Linked DNA regions of Homo sapiens: region 2 is reported to be linked to region 1. Evidence: microRNA targets listed by miRTarBase, many of them from high-throughput screens and not tested one by one. Region 1 holds a microRNA gene; the other region holds the end of a gene's coding sequence.

Evidence for each region. Region 1 holds the annotated microRNA hsa-miR-4307 (AAUGUUUUUUCCUGUUUCC, at 3,641-3,659, opposite strand). A microRNA usually pairs through its seed, bases 2 to 8, with sites in the 3' UTR of a target mRNA and lowers its output. Matches are read on the target gene's strand: a 7mer-m8 pairs with bases 2 to 8, a 7mer-A1 pairs with bases 2 to 7 and ends in A, and an 8mer does both.
Region 2: miRTarBase lists PRR11 as a target of hsa-miR-4307. Seed matches in the 3' UTR shown: 7mer-A1 at 5,683-5,689.

The regions. Positions count from the first base shown.
Region 1 is chr14:26,901,284-26,912,355 of GRCh38, reverse strand. MIR4307 (microRNA 4307) reads right to left here and starts at 3,714; the gene lies at 3,631-3,714. The region is part of intron 3 of MIR4307HG (MIR4307 host gene); the gene reads right to left.
Region 2 is chr17:59,197,157-59,208,228 of GRCh38, forward strand. It overlaps PRR11 (proline rich 11), which reads left to right. Exons shown (of 10, transcript NM_018304.4): 8 at 388-447; 9 at 537-633; 10 at 4,407-9,553. The coding sequence ends at 4,475. Among named protein-coding and RNA genes, the nearest start is that of SMG8, 7.3 kb to the right of the region's middle.

The DNA.
Region 1 (11,072 bases):
CCAGCTTACTGCTAGTGAGATTTCTTATTTCAAACATCTTAACAGTTCAGCATGTGTACTTTCTTTGGGGAACCTTGTCTATCCCACCCCTAAGTTATGATTTTATTTTTTACATAGAAAAACCACTGACCTTAGTATTTTGCAAAGGCTTTCATATTATTTTCATTTACCACAAAATTATTATATCTTTTAGAAATGAATATTTAAAATTTTGTCAAAAATGTCACATCAAGAATAGAACAATGAAGTAGCAAGAGCAGTGCCACATTTCCAAAGACCTTGATCTCCAGGAGATGTCTCAAAACAGGGAACAAGTACCTAGAACAAGGTCAGTTACACCACGGATATTCCATAAGTGCCTCTGGATAAATGAAAGGATGAGAAAATGAATAGCTATTTAAAGTGGACTTAAAGCAGGCCATATTCTACATCAGTGCAGGGTGTTCTTGATTACCTTTTGGCTCACTCAGATCTTAGAAGATATAAAAATCCTCAGTGGGTCATTTTTCATATTCAGCTAAGTAACTTAGTAATAATAATCATGTTAACACTTCCTTGCTGTAACTCCTATCTCAGAGCCACCTCATCTGAGGCAAAAAGGAATAGTAGGAACAGTGGAAGTGGTACAGTTGCAACAATATCTTTCAAGATCATTACAATCCCAATCACCAGCCCTTCCAGAGAATAAACTGTCAGCTTTCCCATCTAATAATTAGTCTTTGCAGTCATATTGTTAGGTAAAGAGGTCGAAGCAACATCAATCTGTTCTCTACAACTTATTCACAGTTAGACTGATACAGATAGGTAATTGAGAAAAAAAGTCCATATATAAAACAACAGATGTTCTCAAACAAGCAAGCTTAAATTTGTATACTAAGACAAAAACCTAAACACAACATTTTTGAGTCCTGCTTCTTAATTTTAATCTTACAAGTTAATAAATTAATGAGTAACTCATAACTGGGGGATTCTATATTGCCATCCATTCTTTTGCCCAAATCAGGAATTTGCAACCAACTTATGATGGCATGTCGTTTTAATGCAAGGAGTTGATTGTGTCCTAAGCTGTATATTTGGCATCTGTGCAGTTCTTTCTTGGTGCCATCTTGAAGCTATTCACTTTTCTTCTAAGAATGTGAAAACTATATGATGAGTTTCTTATCCAAATTATGCAAAAAATCACAGCCTTTTCTTTCTTTCTTCTTATATATGATTTTATATTAAACAGTTTTCTTTTAGTTCAAAACATTTTTATACTTTATATGTTTTTACCTATTTTTCCAAAGATACTACCTAAATATTTTAGTCAGTTTTAGCCCTTATTGTTTTACTTCCCAACTCATATTAGTAAGAAATTGATATTTATTGAATACTTGTGGCTTTTAAGAGACTTTTGTTTGGTATTTCAATTTTGATCAATGTTTTTTATTATATGACATGTTAATCTTATTTAAAAACTTGGAACTCCTACATTGCAGTTCAAAGACTAATGACATTATCCCCATTTAACCAATGTGCATCAAGTAATCCTTCATGCCAGGAATTATTCGACGTCCTCAGCTCACAGTTGTGAGCATTACAGAAAACAAGATTACATTTTAACACAGGAATACAAACAACAAAAAATAATAAAAACTTAAATAAATGAGAAAACATTGGATTAGAATTAAGTGCAAGGGAGATAATTAAATTAAGATGCTGTGATTGAGAATGACGAGTAGATACTTCATACTCAATGGTCAGGGAAAAACTTTTCTGAGGAGATAACAATGAAGCTGAGACCTAAATTTTTAAAAAATGTTTTGTGCTAATGCTGTAAGTTCTTCTCGTCTTTATATCACTTTTTTGGCATTGTTACTCATCTAGGATTTTATGATTAATGTTGTCACTGTTATTATTATTCACTTTTCAAATTCACATAAATTTTACTTTTTGATGTACCACCCTGTCAAATTTGATAAATGCTTACAGTCATATAAAACCATGACCACAATCAAACTGCAAAATAGTTCATCACCCCCCAAATAACCCCTGTTGCTGCACTTTATAGTCAACACCTCCTGCCCGCCCAGCCCATAGCAAACACTAATGTGCTTTCCGTTCCTATATTTTACTTTTCCAGAATGTCATTAGATAGAAACATACCATATAAAATTTTTTCTCTCTGCCTCTTGTTACTTAGCACATGCATTTGAGATTCATCCATGTTGTGTGTATATTATTAATCAGGTTTTTCTATTGCTGACTAGTATTTCATTGGATGTATATGTCACTATTTATCCATTAACCAATGAAGGATGTTTAGGTTTTCCCAGTTTTTGACAATAATAAATAAGACCATTATAAACCTTTCCATACAAGTTTTTGTATGAACCTAAGTCTTCATTTACCTTGGTTAAATACTGTGAGTAGGATTACTGAGTCATGGGCTTATGTTTAACTTTATAAGAAATTTCTAATTTATTTTCACAAATGGTATATCACGTTTATTCTTGCAAACAACCTATGGTATCTCATGGTTTCAATTAGTATTTCCCTAATGACTACTGATTTTGAGACTCTTATTATGCATATTTATCATCCATATATGTTTGGTGAAATACCTGTCAAATCCTTTCCTCATTTTCTATTTGGTTGTTTGTTTTCTTAAAATTAGTCTTATTAAGGGTGGGTGCACACCTATAATCCCAGCACTTTAGGAGACCGAGGTGGGCAAATCAATTGAGCCTAGGAATTCTAGACCAGCCTGAGGAACACAGCAAAACCCCATCTCTACAGAAAATACAAAAAATTAGCTGGGCATGGTGGCACACGCCTATAGTCCCAGACACTTGAGAGGCTGAGGTAGGAGGATCACCTGAGCCAGGAAGTTGAGGCTGCAGTGAGCCAAAATGGTGCCACTGTATTCCAGCCTGGGTTACAACGTGAGACTCTGTCTCAAAAATATATATATTCATATTAAGTATTTCAGATTCTTTTTACATTGTAAATACAAGTCTGTATTAGTTACCTGTTTTGCACATATTAATCCAGTCTGCAGTTTCTTTCTTTTCTTAACATTGTGTTTGCAGAACAAATACTCTTGTTTTTATAAAATAAAATTTATCAAAGTTTCTTGTGTTCTTTTGTTGTCATATTTAAAAAATATATTTAACAAGACCATCTATTGAGAAAAGAGGGTTCACATACTCTCCAATAAAGTACTTATATTATTAAGAAAAAGTTCAAGTGCCTATCTGAGAGGGAAATTTTCATCTTTGTAGATGATTGCTAGAAAAATGTTCTACCTATATTTTCATATCTCAAGTTAAGCTAAGACAGCCAACCACTTGTCAAAAATGAGGTTTACTGTAAAGAAGAAAGAATTGTAAAATTGGTATATACTTTGAAAAGTAAAGTACACCAACCTTTTCATTCAAATCTAATAAATGTATCTAAGTAAACTATTTAAAACTTTTCAACAGATGCAGAAAAAAAAAAAAAAGCCTTCCTAGAGCTTTCTTTATCTGAGTAAAAGTAGAAACTTATGGGAAATAAGGCTGCTATAAATTGCACTTCAGGGTAGATCTAATCCCAGAAGGGAAAATGTAAATAAAACCTACCTCAAACCCCTTCTCCAGGGGAGTATTATGGCCCTGAAGGAAACAGGAAAAAACATTCATAACTATATAGACAAACATTATCACAAACTTTATCTCCTGTTTTTTCTTCTGAAAGCCCATTTATCTTTCCAAAAAGTCATCTGTTTTCCCTAGGTGCCTTTCTCTCTCTCCCTTTCACCTATTAAAATTGTATTATCTATAAGCTCCAAATTCTAATTACTTCTTTTGAGTCACTCATCATTGAGTTCTTCCATGTATATGGGTGCCGCAAGCACAAATAAATTCTATTGTTTTCTGCTGTGTATAATATGGGCTAAATTTATTGGTTGGGTTTTGGAGGCTATCTAGAAGAATGTCAGCAAACTATTTCCATATGGTAGAGCAGGTGGAAAAACATGTATGTACACATGCATATCCAGAAAGAACAACAATAAAAAAGCCCTCTGCTGATCAAAAATATTCTAATAAACTCAATATACATACAATAAAAATAATACAAGTAAAAAGATAATAAAGCATAACAATTATTTACATAGCATGTACATTGTATTAAGTATTGTAAGTATTCTAGAGAGGATTTAAAGTATACGGGAGGATATTGATAAGTTACATGTAAGTAATATGCCATTTTAAATCAGGGACTTGAGCATTCATGGATTCTGTTTTAGTGGGAGTGATCCTGGAACCAATTATCTCCAGGGATAATGAGGGACAACTGGATAGCTTTTCCATCACCCACGCAGATGTAAATAACCACAAGATCATCAATAGCATTAAAATATGGTGGAATAATTAGAAAGTAATGAATATTGAGTATATATTGCATGTTTTTATTATAATATATGGAAGATATGGAAGTATAGATTTATTTTGTAGATTTTTTAAAAACTGATATGTGCATTTAAAACCTGTCTTGCAAAATTCCTAAAAATTTAATAGCTGGCTTTTAATAGACCGTAGAAGGCAGCTCCAGCACACCACTGGTCTTATGCCTTTGGAAGCTTCCCACAGCAGAAAATAAAGCCTGAGAGTGCAACAAAGCTGAGCTTATTCTAACTCCATATCTTGGTTAGCCATAAAGAGGAAAAAATAACTATAAAACAATGACAGATCTCCTTACTCTACTGGTAGTAAATTTCTGTATGCTGTACTGAACTCTTTATTGCCAGGCAAAATTCTATGTCAGTTCCAGCAGCAAACAAGACCAATGAAACCCCTGCTCTCATGGATTTACATTTCAGTAGCCCATTTTTGTTGCCCCATGACACATTCCTTTTCTTTTAATTTGTGGATTTAGAACCTGGAGCTTCTTCTTGGCTCCTTGGACAAAACCATGTTTATTCTTGGGATATACCCTATCAACTCTGATTTCTCTTTAAAGATGTACTCATTCTCCTTTACTGGGAATTCTCCATTTTTGTGGCCTCTCACTACCTCCTTTCTTTCTTTTTTTTTATCATTAATTTGTTCTTATAATTTTGTTTTTGTTACTTAAAAAAAAGACTGTGAGAAAACATTGACAAGTGTATTTTCTGTTCATCTTAAACCAGAAAATATTATCTGATAATTTGAAATCAGATTGTTAATCTAAATAGAATGAATTTAAAAAGTTCTATTTTTTTTTTTTTTTTATGGGAGTTTTGCTATTGTTGCCCAGGCTGGAGTGCAATGGTATGATCTCAACTCATTGCAACCTCCGCTTCCCAGGTTCAAGCAATTCTCCTGCCTCAGCCTCCCAAGTAGCTGGGATTACAGGCATGTGCCACCATGCCTGGGTAATTTTGTATTTATTTTTATTTTTATTTTTTAGTAGAGTCAGGGTTTCTCCATGTTGGTCAGGCTGATCTCGAACTCCCGACCTCAGGTGTTCCGCCCGCCTCAGCCTCCGAAAGTGCTTGGATTACAGGCGTGAGCCACTGCGCCCAGCCAGTTCAATCCATTTCTGAAAGTATCGTGGAAGCCTGGAAGATTTATTTAGTGGCCCTTCAGATTAACGTATTAATTTTTTAAAATAAACATAAGATAAAAGAAATATAACATCAGAGTGAAAGGAAAATTGGGACCTCATTGAGTACAATTATTCCATAGCCTCTCTATAATTGGCCAAAATACACATACATTTTTGTGACATACTTAGTTCTAAGATTTTATAAATTTCTATTAACGTCCTAAAAAATCCAATAGATGTAAAAGTTGAGCAAACTGTCTTTGAGATCCATCCAGCTAGAATTTTTTTCTGTCTTTAACCATTTTGTGGAATATATTCTTATATTTATATTTTATCATTTATATTTATATTTATATTTATATATAAATATATTTATATTTATATATATATATAAATATATTTATATATTTATATATCATTTTATATTTATATTTACAAATTTATAGTTTTCATGTGTTTTTAAACTGGGTGAATGTTTATTGTTTGGGAAATAAGAACTCTACATGTTAAAACTTAAGTTTAACTTAGAAGCAATTCAGTTAACGCTATTAAGTTTTAAGCATGTATTGATTTCGTGTTTTCATCTCAGAATGTTGTGATGCATTAAATCTGCAATTACAATAAAAAAGGCATGAGTTCAATTCCTTTAATCTGTAAAGTTGAAATGTTTTATTTAATCTATTTTAGGGTAGAAATTCAACTGGGATCCATCAAAGCATAAATTTTGTTTGATTAAAAAGCTTATGTATTGACAATTAAGCATTAAAAATATTCACTCTTTTGCATCTCATTCTAAATGAAAATAGTGACTTTTGTAATGCATTGATCAAGGAAAGCTGGATAATTTACATCTTTGAGTGATATTATTTTACACTATCTTTCTGCTTTTTAATATCTTACTGTCTACTATCACCTTTAAATCATTGTTGATGATTATAGCACAGATCAGTTCTACTTCCTTTAAGTTTCATCTGAAATGCTGAAGTTATCAGATCAAGATGGCAATGAGTAAACTGATACTGTTAGAGGTTTGTATTTGGTCCAATCTGCACATATAAATATATATATATATATATATCTGCACATATATATATATATATATATAAAAAACCAACCTATATAGGTTGTATATAGTACAAACTGTTTTAAAAGCTTTTCCTAGGACTCTTTTCAAAAAGTTGTTTAAACAAATAAAATCAAGAAGAAAATAAAATATGCTATACAACTATTTATGGAGAGTATATATTTTTAGTTTGACTTCATATTGTCAACATAGATATACTCTATGACCAGTTCATTTCTCTCCTTGCTACATTTTCTTTTTTATATAATTAGTTCTTGTCTTCTTGTGCTTTCTGAATATCGCTGCTGTATAGAGACACCTGCTGGGAAATAAATGAACAGAAGAAAATTCAAACCTGTGCTTAGAAACAAGAAAAGCTTCTCTCTTATACAGTTTAAGCAAGCTTTCCTCTAATAACGTATTTTGTATCAGAGCATACATGCCTTTGAAATATATGAAAATCTACCTATATCTGGAGCTTTGCTATTAATCTTAAAATCTCTACCTCGGCATGAGGTTTCCAGAATCTACATATAGGTACGCTTGCGGTATAAAATAGGTATGTAATACAAGACAGTTGTAAATCTATTTCAACTAAGTCATTTAAGTGTTCACATGTATCTTTAAAAATTTTTACACATAATTATTTTCCAGTGATTAGGGCTTCTCTTATTCATATTTTTACATCTTAATTTTTATTTAAAACATTTGCTAAAGCAAGGCAAACTTTTATTATTGATTGGTTTAATGTAAATATTTGCATTAACAAAAATTGTCTTTTGAAAGTTTGTTTACATGAGTATCTGTTTACATAAACCTTTGTGTTCAATTTCAATCTAAGTTGCAAATGGCAAGATTTCATTATTTTTTACGGTTGAATAATATCTCATTGTGTATATGTACCGTACTTTCTTTATCCATTCATCTGTTGGTAGATACTTAGGGTGATTCCGTATGTTGGCTATTGTGAACAGTGCTGCAATAAACATGGCAGTGCAGATATCTCTTCAATAGACTAATTTTCTTTATTATGGATATATACCCAGCAGTGGGATTGCTGGATTATATGATAGTATTATTTTGCGATTTGTAAGGAACCTCCATACTATTCTCCATAGTGGCTATATTAATTTACATTCCCACCAACAGTGTACAAGGATTCCCCTTTCTCCATATCCCGGCCAGCATCCATTATTACCTATCTCTTTGAAAAAAGCCACTTTAACTAGTGTAAGATGATAGATCATTATAGTTTTGAATTTCATTTCTCTTTTGAGTGAGTTTCCCAATTGTAAACCAGCAGATCAACAACATTGAAAATTAAATGTAAAAATACATTTAATTGATAGTTTAATAACAAACCATCAATTAGGTATTTCAATTGTGTTCCAAACTCTGGGTCAAGCTTAACTTCTTCAGAATTACGCTGATTTCTCATGTATTATAATAAGATGATAAGTCTTGAAGATGATATGAGCATATCTGAGTCCTTAAATAGTTTTAATAATTTCATTTATGTGCTTTGCTGAATGAATATCAAATAGCAGGGCAAGATTACAGGCAGGTCTTGAAGTGCAGTTACTACAGCAGTTCTCAAGTGATATTCACCATAATTCAGCTGAACATAGACCAGTCATGTGTGGAGAATGGATGAGAGCAGGATTTCCAAGCACCTGCTCTCTGCTCCCAACCAGACAGGAAAAATACAGTACATGGTGACAAACTGATATCAGGCCTCCAAACATGTGGCAAAGATGCTGACAATTGCTAAGAAGCCAACCAAACATATTATGATTAAAGATGGGGTGAACACAGCATAATATCAGAGGAGAAGAAGAGAATTCACTTTGAGAAATTACAGTCATGTAAAAAGAAAATTCACTTTATACTTAATATTAAATGACCTTAAAAATTCAGATTGTCCTATTCAGATCAAATATATAAACCAATTCCAGGATCTCAATAGCATCTTGAAAGAGAGAATAATTTATAGCGTAAGAACACAGACTCTGGAATCAAACAAAATAGAGTTCATTCCAGTGAACTTAGAGTCTCCAGTGCTAAGCAGCTGACACAAGGTCTTTAACCACTCTAAATAGAATTTTCCTTATTAACACAAAAGATATATTAATGGTACTACTGGGATGATTGACAGTAAATAAGATAATGCATATAAAGTGCTTACTAGAATACTTGGTAAGGGTAAGCATTCAACTAATAGTGACATTTTAATGCTGAACATCAGCCACAGGGGAGATTTCATTAAATCATTGTACAATTATTTCTACTAGTTTTGTGGGATTATAATGACATTATTATTTATATTCTTTGGAGAAAGAGAATATTATTTATATTCTTTGGAGAAACAGAATCTTAAATGTTGGCTTTTTGAACATTATCAAATCAGTTGGAAAAATCAGATTGAGGGATATACCACAAAAATACAAGTTTTAACTAGACTGACATTACATACTTTATGTATTATTTTCAAATATTTCCAATAAAATTCAAAACAACATTATGCCAATATACATACTATCAAAAGGAAAATACTGCCTTAATTATGAATTTTTTGAATTGTGCTTCTGTCTCACCATTGATATTTAAATGACTCCTCTTGGGCCTGTTCTCCTGGTCTACCCCCCAGGTATTTAGAATAGTATTGCATGGCTAGTAATAAAAGTCCAACACAAAATATTCAAGGTAATTTTAGTTCAGATTTTAAAACAATTTGAGATGCACCACAATGTAAATCAGAATATTATTGTTTGTTACAGGACTTGAGATTGAAAAAGTAAGCTATTACTTTTAATAGCTGAGTAAAAAGAAGAGTGACAATTGAGCAATTACAAATTGGAGGCTCCACATAACATCGACAGTATTTATTATCTCTTCTTGTAAGGAAACAAAGACAGTTTTGCAGAGATTTTGGGTTTGTTTTTGCTTTGTATGTGATTGGAATATATGTTGGCCATAGAGAGAAGAGGAATTTGGTAAAATAGAAGAATTTACTCTCAGAAATATTGACATTCTTGTTTTGTTTGATATTCTTCTTAGAAATAGGTGAAAAAAACATAAATAATGCATATGATTCACCAAGGCACTAATTTAAACTTTTCACAATATAATATCAATGACTATGTTTGAATGTTTCATAAACTCTTTACTATAAGTAATGGTATTATAAAGGTATCTTAAGGAAGATAGATGATAGATAGATACATACATACATACATATATACCTACATACATAGAATATGTACACATAAAGATATAGACAAAATAAAAATAAGTAAATGCAGTGTAACCAATTGGCATTGTTTGATTATCTGGGAAAGTAAAAGATGGTAAAAGATATGTGTGATAAAAATGAAGAAGGAGAATAAACCAGAATTTAATAAATTTAATAGGAGGATAACAGTTTTGGAAAATTTTATAAAAATATTACTTTTGACCAATCATTTTTCTTTAGAAGGAGAGGACAAATTATAAAACAATAATTTAGGGTTCTGCTTGTATTACTTAAGCACTTTTCCTGAGTTTGCCTTACAAACTGAACTCAGATATAAGCAAGACCGAACTCATTATTGTACCCTGAAGACAGCATGAATGTAAATCAGCTAAAATATAAGACTCAGGGTAACTTTTGGGCTAGTAATAAAATTCATGGTGCTTAAATTGCTTACTTCTAATGCATATTTTACAAGTCTCCGAGGAAACCTCTGAAACTCATAGACTTCCCCCCTTTCCTCATTACTGTATTTGATTCACTTTCAAACTCTGTAGGATGCATTTAATACTGTGTATAGCACCAGAAACTCCTATCTGAAATAACCTGAAGGTGCTACAGAAGAGTTGCTATTTACAAGTCAATTTTGGAGTGCTGAATGGGAAAACTGAAGACAAATTTGTCCAAAAATCATCTAACACCAGAAAAAGCTTGGTCTTCTAACTTACACTATGACGCTGGCATTTACCTCATGGTCCCTTGATCTAATATAGTATAAATACTTCTTTACCATCAGCACTTTAAGCTCTTTAAGAAGATTTTGCTATGGTGGATAGGTTACATGTTCATTCTAATCTGTTTACATTTCCATCCCTTGCTCTCTGTTGGGTAATATGTTTTAGCTATTATTGAGTGATGGCCTATGGCCATGAAAGAGCACTAAGCTTACTGGCTGTCATGGGGATAAGAACATGATCTTCACTCAATTGCCATCACTCTTAAAATAGCTTATCAAACTAACCAGAGGAACTAGAGAAACACTCCATGGGGATACAGAGGTGTCAGGAAAAGTAACAAATTTTTAGGTCTCTGCTCTAGAATCTTGCTTTCCTTAGAAAAGAACACCAACTTACTGTTCTATGATTATATTCCACTAATTTCTATGATAAAAGACAGACTTCCACAATCTTTGAGTAATATCGGAATTTAAATAAAGTGGAATTTAAATAC
Region 2 (11,072 bases), not on the chromosome of region 1:
TTTTTTAATGTAACACATAGAACTACTTTCTAGGATGTTGCCTATAGAAATGATTGCTTTCCTTTGGGAAAAAAATAATAAAATCTGGCAAGTTCTAATTTTTTTTTTTTTTGGAGACAGAGTCTTGCTCTATTGCCCAGGCTGGAGTGCAGTGGTGCAATCTTTGCTCACTGCAAGCTCTGCCTTCCGGGTTCACGCCATTCTTCTGCCTCAGCCTCCCGAGTAGCTGGGACTACAGGCGCCCACCACCACACCTGGCTAATTTTTTGTATTTTTAATAGAGACAAGGTTTCACCGTGTTAGCAAGGATGGTCTTGATCTCCTGACCTTGTGATCCACCTGCCTCAGCCTCCCAAAGTTCTAATTTTTATATCTTTGTTTTATCAGCACTCCTGGAAAAAGTCAGATGGATCTGCGGAAACTGCTTAGAAAAGTCGATGTAGAGAGGTAATACACTCTCATATCTTTATGCCTTCTACGTCCATTTTAAAAGTTGCCATAAAATACAGCTACTGTTATTTTCAATACCTTTGCAGGAGCCCAGGTGGAACCCCTCTTACCAATAAGGAAAATATGGAAACAGGAACAGGACTGACTCCAGTGATGACGCAGGCCTTAAGGAGAAAGTTTCAGGTAACCCTTTAGGAAAAGAATATTGGTTCCTTTGCTTGAAAATAATTTGGCCTGGTGTGGTGGCTCATGACTGTAATCCTAACACTTTGGGAGGCTGAGGTGGGGAGATTGCTTGAGCCTAGCAGTTCAAGATGGGCAACATGGTGAAACTCTGTCTCTACAAAAAATACAAAAAATTAGCCAGGCGTGGTGGTGCATGCCTGTAGTTCCAGCTACTTGGGAAGCTGTGTTGGAGGATCACTTGAGCCCAGGAGGTCAAGGCTGCAGTGAGCTGTGATTGCACCACTGCACTCCAGTCTGGGTGACAAAGCAAGACCCTGTCTCAAATAAATAATCATAATCATAATTTATGATCATAATTTAAAGCAGCTTTCTTAGTAACAATAATTTTTAAATGGTACCGTATTTTGCAAAGTATTTTCATATTTAGGCTTCATAAAATTCTATAAAATACAGGTAGGATTGGCCGGGCACAGTGAGTGGCTCATGCCTGTAATCTCAGCACTTTGGGAGGCCGAGGTGGGCAGATCACATGAGGCCAGGAGTTTGAGACCAGCGTGGCCAACATGACAAAACCCTGTCTCCACTAAAAAAATACAAAAATGGCCGGGCACGGTGGCTCACGCCTGTAATCCCAGCACTTTGGAAGGCCGAGGCAGGTGAATCATGAGCTCAGGAGTTTGAGACCAGCCTGACCAACATGGTGAAACCCCGTCTCTACCCCAAATACAAAAATTAGCAAGGTGTGGTGGCGGATGCCTGTAGTCCCAGCTACTCGGGAGGCTGAGGCAGGAGAATCACTTGAACCTGGGAGGCAGAGGTTGCAGTGAGCCAAGATTGTGCCACTGAACTCCAGCCTGGGTGACAGAGCGAGACTTAGTCTCAAAAAAAAAAAAAATTAGCCATGTATGGTGACTCGTGCCTGTAATCCCGGCTACTTGGGTGGCTAAGGCATGAGAATCGCTTGAACCCAGGAGACGGAGGTTGCAGTGAGCCAAGACTGCACCACTGCACTCCAGCCTGGGTGACGGAGTGAGACCCTGTCTCAAAAAAAGAAAAAAAAGAACTATAGGTAGGATTATCATGTCTATCTGTAAATGTCTGATTTTATTAATCCCTTTAGTACATATTTTTAGTAAATATTTACTAAGCACTTCCTATATGCCCAGCAGTGTGTTGAAGTACTGGGAATATAGTGGTAAGCAAAAACAGATACAGATTACTGTCTTGAAGCTTTCAGTCTAGTGGGGAAAATAGGCATTCATCAAATAATCCCATATTTGTATAATATCACATGGCAGTATGTGCTATGAAGGAAAGGAATGAGGTTCTGTGGGAACCCAGAGAGGAACTTGATCTAGCCTGGATGATCTAGGAGGGACTCCCTTAGGAAGTGATGATGCTTGAGGTGAGAGTCGAAGAAGGAAGAGGCATTTACTGGATAGGGTAACTGTGGGGTGGGTCCACCATGAGTGTCAGGAAGGAGAGAGTTCCAGGCAAAAAGAACAAAATTCGTAAGAGTTCCATGGGGTGAGGGATCATGGCCTATTCAAGGAACTAAGAAGTGACCAGTGTGGCTGTAACACAGAGAGGGAGCCCAATGGTGGTGAAAGACAGGGATGGAGATGTAGTTAGGAGTCAGACCCTGCAGAGTTGAAAGGAAAAGGTCTTGAGAGCTTTCTTTGTCACATTCATATACAACCACATACCCAACCCAGTAGATCAGCTGGCCCTGGTGTGACTTCTTCCAAACCCTGTTGATCTTAGTCATCTCCCTAATTGCCTCTATCATTAGATCTGTGAAGAACAGCCATCCGTCGGCTGCCCCTGCTGGAGTGCTGGAACACAGGGCTGCTGGCATCTTTGGCTTTGAAGTTTATAGTTCGTTCTCTCTCTGGATGCAGGGACATAGCAGACTCCACTGCTGACACTTTCCACCCCAATATTGTCTTCCTTTTGTTCCGTGTTTGAGAATCAGTGCTTTTTGTGGGACAATATAATTTCTCTCTTACCAATCAACTTGGTCCTACTGGGCACTATACAGCTTTCTGCGTAGTGGAGATGTGACCAGGTTCTTCTTTCCTCCTCTTAGAGCATGCTACCCCTAATCAAGTTCCTTGGTGATACCCAAAATTGTGAAGGGCAGGAGCAAAGGGACGAGGCCTCACGGGTCTTAGCCCCTTGCTTTTTCTGTTTAGCTCTAAGATCTTTGTTGTCACTGCCCCTACTTCATAGCAGGTACAGTGAGTTGAGAACTCTGGAAATGGATAAACGATAATAAATTGTAAAGCCACATATTGAACAACAACAAAAATCACAGATAAGACCTATGGCATATGTTGTGCTGCCAAAATCTACTCAGGAGGAGGATGTCTAGTTAAAATTGTTGTTAGATATAGATGACTTATCCCACCCAACCCTTAGGCTTCTTTTTTTCTTAAACTGTGAAGCAACTGTATCAGGTTTTGCATTGGCTTCAGGTATCAGAAATCTGACTATAGTGGTTTAATCAAATAGGGACATGGCAGAGTGTAGTGGCTCATACCTGTAATCCCAGTGCTTTGGGAGGCTAAGGCCGGAAAGTCGCTTGAGGCCAGGAGTTTGAAACCATCCTGGGCGATATAGCAAGACTCTGCCTTGACAAATAAATAAATAAATTAGGACTTTTTTTTTTAATATATACAACTAACTCATTTATTTTATTTTATTTTAATTTTTTTTGAGACGGAGTCTCGCTCTGTCGCCCAGGCTGGAGTACAATGGCGCAATCTTGGCTCGCTGCAAGCTCTGCCTCCTGGGTTCACACCATTCTCCTGCCTCAGCCTCCCGAATAGCTGGGACTACAGGCGCCCGCCACCACGCCCGGCTAATTTTTTGTATTTTTAGTAGAGACAGGGTTTCACCGTGTTAGCCAGGATGGTCTCGATCTCCTGACCTTGTGATCCACCTGCCTCGGCCTCCCAAAGTGCTGGGATTACAGGCGTGAGCCACCGGGCCCAGCCTGTTTTTTTAAAATTTATAGACGAAGTCTCACTATATCTCCCAGGCTGGTCTCAAACTCCTGGGCTCAAGTGATCCTCTTGTCTCGGCCTCCCAAAGTGCTGGGATTACAGGCGTGAGCCACCGTCCTCGGCCCACAACTATCTTTTTTTTTTTTAAATTTATTTTTTATTTCAATACGTTTTTGGGGAACAGAAAGTGTTTGGTTACACAAATTAGTTCTTTAGTGGTGATTTCTGAGATTTTGGCACACCCATCACCCAGCCAGTGTACACTGTTCCCAATGTATAGTCTTTTATCCCTCACCCCACCCCACCCTTTCCCCCAAGTCCCCAAAGTCCACTGTATCATTCTTATGCCTTTGCATCCTCATAGCTTAGCTCCCGGACTTATTTTTTTAATTTAAATATTTCTTTGGGCAGTAGGAAGTCCACAACTATAATACAGTGGCTTCACCATATAATCACTGTTCTTCCATCCTTAATGTGTGGCTTTTATCCTCTTAATACAAAATGCCTACATTTCCTGAAGCCTCATGTCCACATTCTAGGCAAGAGAAGGAGAAAGGCAAATGTTAATTAAGCTATGCCTCATTTCTTCAAAGAAGCCCTATCCAGGAACTTCTGATTGCATCAGGGAAACTGGGAAAAGTGGTTTTTACAATCTGAATGCAGTGTTGCCATGCAAAAATTCTGGGTTCTGTTGAGAAAGGAGAGTTGTACTTATCACAGGAATATAATTGATATTATAATTGGGACTTTTTTTTTTTATAGCTGGCTCACCCTAGAAGCCCAACTCCAACTCTGCCACTTTCTACAAGCAGCTTTGATGAACAAAACTGATGCCAACTCTGCCTCACTCCATGAGATGATCCATAACAAATACAGATAAAAACACCCAGCTGGGTGCAGTGGCTCACACCTGTAATCCCAGCACTTTGGGAGGCTGAGGCAGGTGGATCACCTGAGGTCAGGAGTTTGAGACCAGCCTGGCCAACATGGTGAAACTCCTTCCCCACTAAAAATACAGAAATTAGCTGGGCATAGTGGCGGGTGCCTGTAATCCCAGCTATGCGGGAGGCTAAGGCAGGAGAATTGCTTGAACCCAAGAGGCAGAGGTTGCAGTGAGCCAAGATCGCGTCATTGCACTCCAGCCTGAGCAACAAGAGCAAAACAAAAACAAACAAACAAACAAAAAAAACCCACCCAAATCCTTTTTTTTAATGTAGTAGGGTTTATATAGATATACTAATATAATTGCATTTGGAGAATTAGAGTATGTATGGAGCCCACACATACTGTGATATAAAGTGTATATACAGATATTTGGATATTTTCTAGTTTGCATGATGATTAAGAGAACCAGATGGGAAAATACAATCTCCAAAGTGATGTTTATCCTGGAATTACCCAATTTAGATTAGAGAGGTTGTTCAAATTTAACTAGATAACTCTAGTTTGTACTGTATAGGTGCAGTTATGACAGTAAAAAAATAGCCTCTTGGCTCATACCTGTAATCCCACCACTTTGGGAGGCCAAGGTGGGAGGATTGCTTGAGCCCAGGAATTCAAGACTAGCCTGGGCAACATAATACAGGGAGACCCCGTTTCTATTAAAAATACAAAAATCAGCCAGCTGTGGTGACACATGCCTATAGTCCCAGCTACTTAGGAAGCTGAGAAGGGAGGATCACTTGAGGCTGTAGTGCACTATAATTATGCCTGTGAATAGCCACTCTACTCCAGCCTGGGCAACATAGCAAGACCCCATCTCTAAAAATTAAAAAAAAAATTTAAATTAGAATATCATTTCTAGCATCTTAGGTAGGTACTTATATCTGGCTTACAGAAGTCTAAGGTATTCCTTATTTTTATATCTGCTGTCCACATTTATACAGCTACATAAAAATTTTATGACAACTTCAACATGAACCTTATATTTTCGACAATGCCTTGCCAAGGAATCTCTGAAGTCCATAGCAGGTCACTGTGAGACCTAGTTCCCTGTTGTCACTGACCTATGTAATCAAAGACAGTAATACAGCCTGGGAAACATAGCGAGACCCTGTCTCTATCAAAAATTTAAAATTACCCAGGCATGGTGACGCACACCTGTAGTCTAAGTGTCCAAGTTACTTGTGAAGCTGAGGTGGGAGGATCACTTGAGCCCAAGAGTTTGAAGCTATGGTGAGCTATGATTGTTCCACTATACTCCAGCATTGGCAACAGAGCAAGAACTCATCTCTAAAAAGTAAAAAGCAACTCCCCAGAAAGACTGTATTTCTACAGATAAATATTGCATTGAGATGCCAAATAGAGTGTTGTTGTAAAGTCATCAGACTAGAAAGCAGACCTGGGGACAGTGTTTACCACCTAAGAGGCAGTCCTGTTTTTGAGACCCACATCTATATATAGAGATTTTTGTTTGTTTGTTTGTTTGTTTTGTTTTGTTTTGAGATGAAGTCTCACTCTGTCACCCAGGCTGGAGTGCAGTGGCGCAATCTTGGCTCACTGCAACCTCCACCTCCCAGGTTCAAGCAATTCTCCTGCCTCAGCCTCCTGAGTAGCTGGGATTACAGGTGCGCACTGCCACGCCTGACTAATTTTTGTATTTCTAGTAAAGATGGGGTTTCACTATGTTGGCCAGGCTGGTCTTGAACTCCTCACCTCAGGTGATCCACCCATCTCAGCCTCCCAAAGTGCTGAGATTACAGGCGTGAGCCACCACGCCCGGCCAGAGATCCACATCTATATTTATAACACATTTATGGATGAAAATTAAACAGGTGTCCGGGTGCGGTTACTCATGCCTGTAATCCGAGCACTTGTGGAGGCCGAGGCAGGCGGATTACTTGAGGTCAGGACTTCGAAACCAGCCTGGCCAACATGGTGAAATCCCATCTCTACTAAAAATACAAAATTAGCCAGGTGTGGTGTCACGCACCTGTAGTCCCAGTTACTTGAACCTGGGAGGCAGAGGTTGCAGTGAGCCGAGATTGCAACACTGCCACTCCAGCCTGGGTGACAGAGCAAGAGACCCTGTCTCAAAAAAAAAAAAAAAAAATTAAATGGGTAGTGACGTTAAGAGATATATATCAGCTTCTAGTAAAAGTTTTTTTTTTTAAACCTGCTAGCTACATTTACATTATGTAAAAATAAAGGGAATAATCACTGAGAATAAAGCAGTTGAGTATTTATAACAATAATATTTTATGGGGCGCTTATAATGTTTATAATATTGTAAACCACTGTGTACTCTATTCATTTAATGCTAAATGACTTGACCATTCTTGTGGGATAAGAGATCATTAAAAAAATGCTAGGGCCGGGCACCATGGCTCACGCCTGTAATCCCAGGACTTTAGGAGGCCAAGGCAGGTGGATGACTTGAGCTCAGGAGTTTGAGACCAGCCTGGGCAACATGATGAAAACTCCGTCTCTACCAAAAATCAAAAAAATTAGCCAGGTGTGATGTTGTGTGCCTGTAGTCCCAGCTACTTGTGAGGCTGAGGTGGGAGGATGGTTTGGGCCCCGGAGGTAGAGGTTGCAGTGAGCTGAGATTGTGCCACTGTATTCCATCCTGGGCAACAGAGCCAGACCCTGCCTCAAAAAAAAAAAAAAAAAAAAAAAAGGCCTGGCACAGTGGCTCACGCCTGTAATCCCAGCACTTTGGGAGGCTGAGGCGGGCAAAACACTTGAGGTCAGACGTTTGAGACCAGCCTGGCCAACATGGTGAAACCCCGTCTCTACCAAAAATAAAAATAAAAATTATCCAGGCGTGGTGGCATGTGCCTATAGCCCCAGCTACTCAGGAAGCTAAAGCACGAGAATTATGTGCATCCTGGAGGTGAAGGTTGCAGTGAGCCAAGATCACACCACTCCACTCCAGTCTGGACAACAGAGTGAGACCCTGTGTCAAAAAAAAAAAAAAGAAAGAAAGAAAGAAAAAATGCTTTATGGCCCAGTGCAGTGGCTCACACCTATAATCCTAGCACTTTGGGAGGCTAAGGCAGGAGGATTGCTTGAGGCCAAGAGTTCAAAACAAGCCTGGGCAACATTGCAAGACCCCAACTCTACAAAAAACGAAAAATTAGCCGGGAGCGGTGATGTGTGCCTGTAGTCCCAGCTACTCAGGAGACTGAGGTGGGAGAATCACTTGAGCCTGGGAGGTTGAGGCTGCAGTGAGCTGTGTTTATACCACTGCACTCCAGCCTGCTGGGTAACAGAGCAAGACTCCATCTCAAAAAGAAAAGAAAAAATGCTTTGCTACATAATGAGGCCAGGCAAAAAAAAAAAAGTCCTGTGGAAATCATATAGACAAACATTTGCAAAGCTGCTACTGCCATTGTACCAGTGTTAAACTGTGTTCTACCTTGCATCTTTTACTGATTTTTATGACAGATTTTATATTGTAACCATTCGAGAACTCTGTAAGTGCTATGGCTTCCTTAAACTACGATTTATCATATGCTCCCGGTGTTTACTTTGAGACTGAATGGCAACCAGAGAATGTAAACAACCAAGGTGCATCTGGTTATGTTTTAAAATAAAGATTAATAAAAGTTTTGGTTTTTCTCTTTCTAACCTTCTTTTTAAACTAGAAATATAATACCTATAGAAAAGTAAATGTTGGCCGGGTGCGGTGGCTCATGCCTATAATCCCAGCACTTTGGGAGGCCGAGGCAGGCAGATCACCTGAGGTCAAGAGTTCGAGACCAGTCTGGCCAACATGGTGAAACCCTGTCTCTACTAAAAATACAAAAATTAGCCGGGCATAGTGGCAGACACCTGTAATCCCAGCTACTGGGAAGGCTGAGCCAGAATGGCTTGAACCTGGGAGGCAGAGGTTGCAGTGAGCCGAGATCGCCCCATTGCACTCCAGCTTGAGCAACAAGAGCGAAACTGTCTCAAAAAAAAAAAAAAAGTATATGTTAAGTATAGAAAAATATATAAATTAAAAAATTATAGGCTTGGGGGCCAGGCACAGTGGCTCACACCTGTAATCCCAGCACTTTGGGAGGCCGAGGTGGGTGTATCACTTGAGGTCAGGAGTTTGAGACCAGCCTGGCCAACATGGTGAAACCCCGTCTCTACCAAAAAAAATATATAAAAATTATCTGGGTGTGGTGGCATGTGCCTATAGTCTCAGCTTCTCAGAAGACTGAGGCGTGAGAATCACTTGAACGATGGAAGTGGAGGTTGCAGTGAGCTGAGATCACACTACTGCACTACAGTCTGGGCAACAGAGTGAGACCTTGTCTCAAAAAAAAAAGAAAGAAAAAGAAAAATGCTTTATGGCCCAGTGCAGTGGCTCACACCTATAATCCTAGCACTTTGGGAGGCTAAGGCAGGAGGTTCGCTTGAGGCCAAGAGTTCAAAACAAGCCTGGGCAACACTGCAAGACCCCAACTCTACAAAAAACGAAAAATTAGCCGGGAGCGGTGATGTGTGCCTGTAGTCCCAGCTACTCAGGAGACTGAGGTGGAAGAATCACTTGAGCCCGGGAGGTTGAGGCTGCAGTGAGCTGTGTTTATACCACTGCACTCCAGCCTGCTGGGTAACAGAGCAAGACTCCATCTCAAAAAGAAAAGAAAAAATGCTTTGCTACATAATGAGGCCAGGCAAAAAAAAAAAGTCCTGTGGAAATCATATAGACAAACATTTGCAAAGCTGCTACTGCCATTGTACCAGTGTTAAAATGTGTTCTACCTTGCATCTTTTACTGATTTTTATGACAGATTTTATATTGTAACCATTTGAGAACTCTGTAAGTGCTATGGCTTCCTTAAACTACGATTTATCATATGCTCCCAGTGTTTACTTTGAGACTGAATGGCAACCAGAGAATGTAAACAACCAAGGTGCATCTGGTTATGTTTTAAAATAAAGATTAATAAAAGTTTTGGTTTTTCTCTTTCTAACCTTCTTTTTAAACTAGAAATATAATACCTATAGAAAAGTAAATGTTGGCCGGGTGCGGTGGCTCATGCCTATAATCCCAGCACTTTGGGAGGCCGAGGCAGGCAGATCACCTGAGGTCAAGAGTTCGAGACCAGTCTGGCCAACATGGTGAAACCCTGTCTCTACTAAAAATACAAAAATTAGCCGGGCATAGTGGCAGACACCTGTAATCCCAGCTACTGGGAAGGCTGAGCCAGAATGGCTTGAACCTGGGAGGCAAAGGTTGCAGTGAGCCGAGATCGCCCCATTGTACTCCAGCTTGAGCAACAAGAGCGAAACTGTCTCAAAAAAAAAAAAAGTATATGTTAAGTATAGAAAAATATATAAATTAAAAAATTATAGGCTTGGGGGCCAGGCACAGTGGCTCACACCTGTAATCCCAGCACTTTGGGAGGCTGAGGTGGGAGGATCACTTGAGGCCAAGAGTTTGAAACCAGTATGGGCAACATTGCAAGACCCTGTCTCTACAAAAAACAAAAAATTAGCCGGGCATGGTGGCATGTGCCTGTAGTCCCAGCTACTCGGGAGACTGAGGTGGGAGAATCACTTGAGTCCAGGAGGTTGAGGCTCCAGCGAGCAGTGTTCATACCACCTGCACTCCAGCCTGCTGGGTGACAGAGCAAGATGCTGTCTCAAAAAAAAAAAAAAAAAAAAAAGAAAGAAAAAAGAAAAATGCTTTGCTATATAACGAAGCCAGGCAGGAAAAAAAAGTCCATATAGATAAACATTTGCAAAGCTGCTACTGCCATTGTACAGTGTTAAAATGTGTTCTACCTTGCATCTTTAAATAAAGATTAATAAAAGTTTTGGTTTTTCCCTTTTTAACCTTTTTTTTTAACTAGAAATAATAATACCTATAGAAAAGTATATATTGGCCGGGCGCAGTGGCTCACGCCTGTAATCCCAGCACTTTGGGAGCCCAAGGCAGGTGGATCATGAGGTCAGAAGATCAAGACCATCCTGGCTAACACGGTGAAACCTGGTCTCTACTAAAAATACAAAAAATTAGCCGGGCGTGGTGGCAGGCGCCTGTAGTCCCAGCTACTTGGGAGGCTGAGGCAGGAGAATGGCATGAACCCGGGAGGCAGAGCTTGCAGGGAGCTGAGATCACGCCACTGCACTCCAGCCTGGGCAACAGAGTGAGACTCTGTCTCAAAAAAACAAAAAAGTATATAGTAAGTATAGAAAATATATGAATTAAAAAATCAATGCCGAGCGTGATGGCTCAAACCTATAATCCCAGCACTTTGGGAGGCCGGGGTGGGCAGATCACCTGGGGTTGGAAGTTCGAGACCAGCCTGGCTAACGTGGGGAAACCCCATCTCTACTAAAAATACAAGTTTAGGTGGGCGTGGTGGTACGTGCTTGTAATCCCAGCTACTTGGGAGGCTGAGGCAGAAGAATTGCTTGAGGAGACGGAGACAGGGAATAGGAGATGGAGGTTGCCGTGATCCCAGATAGCACCACTGCACTTCAGCC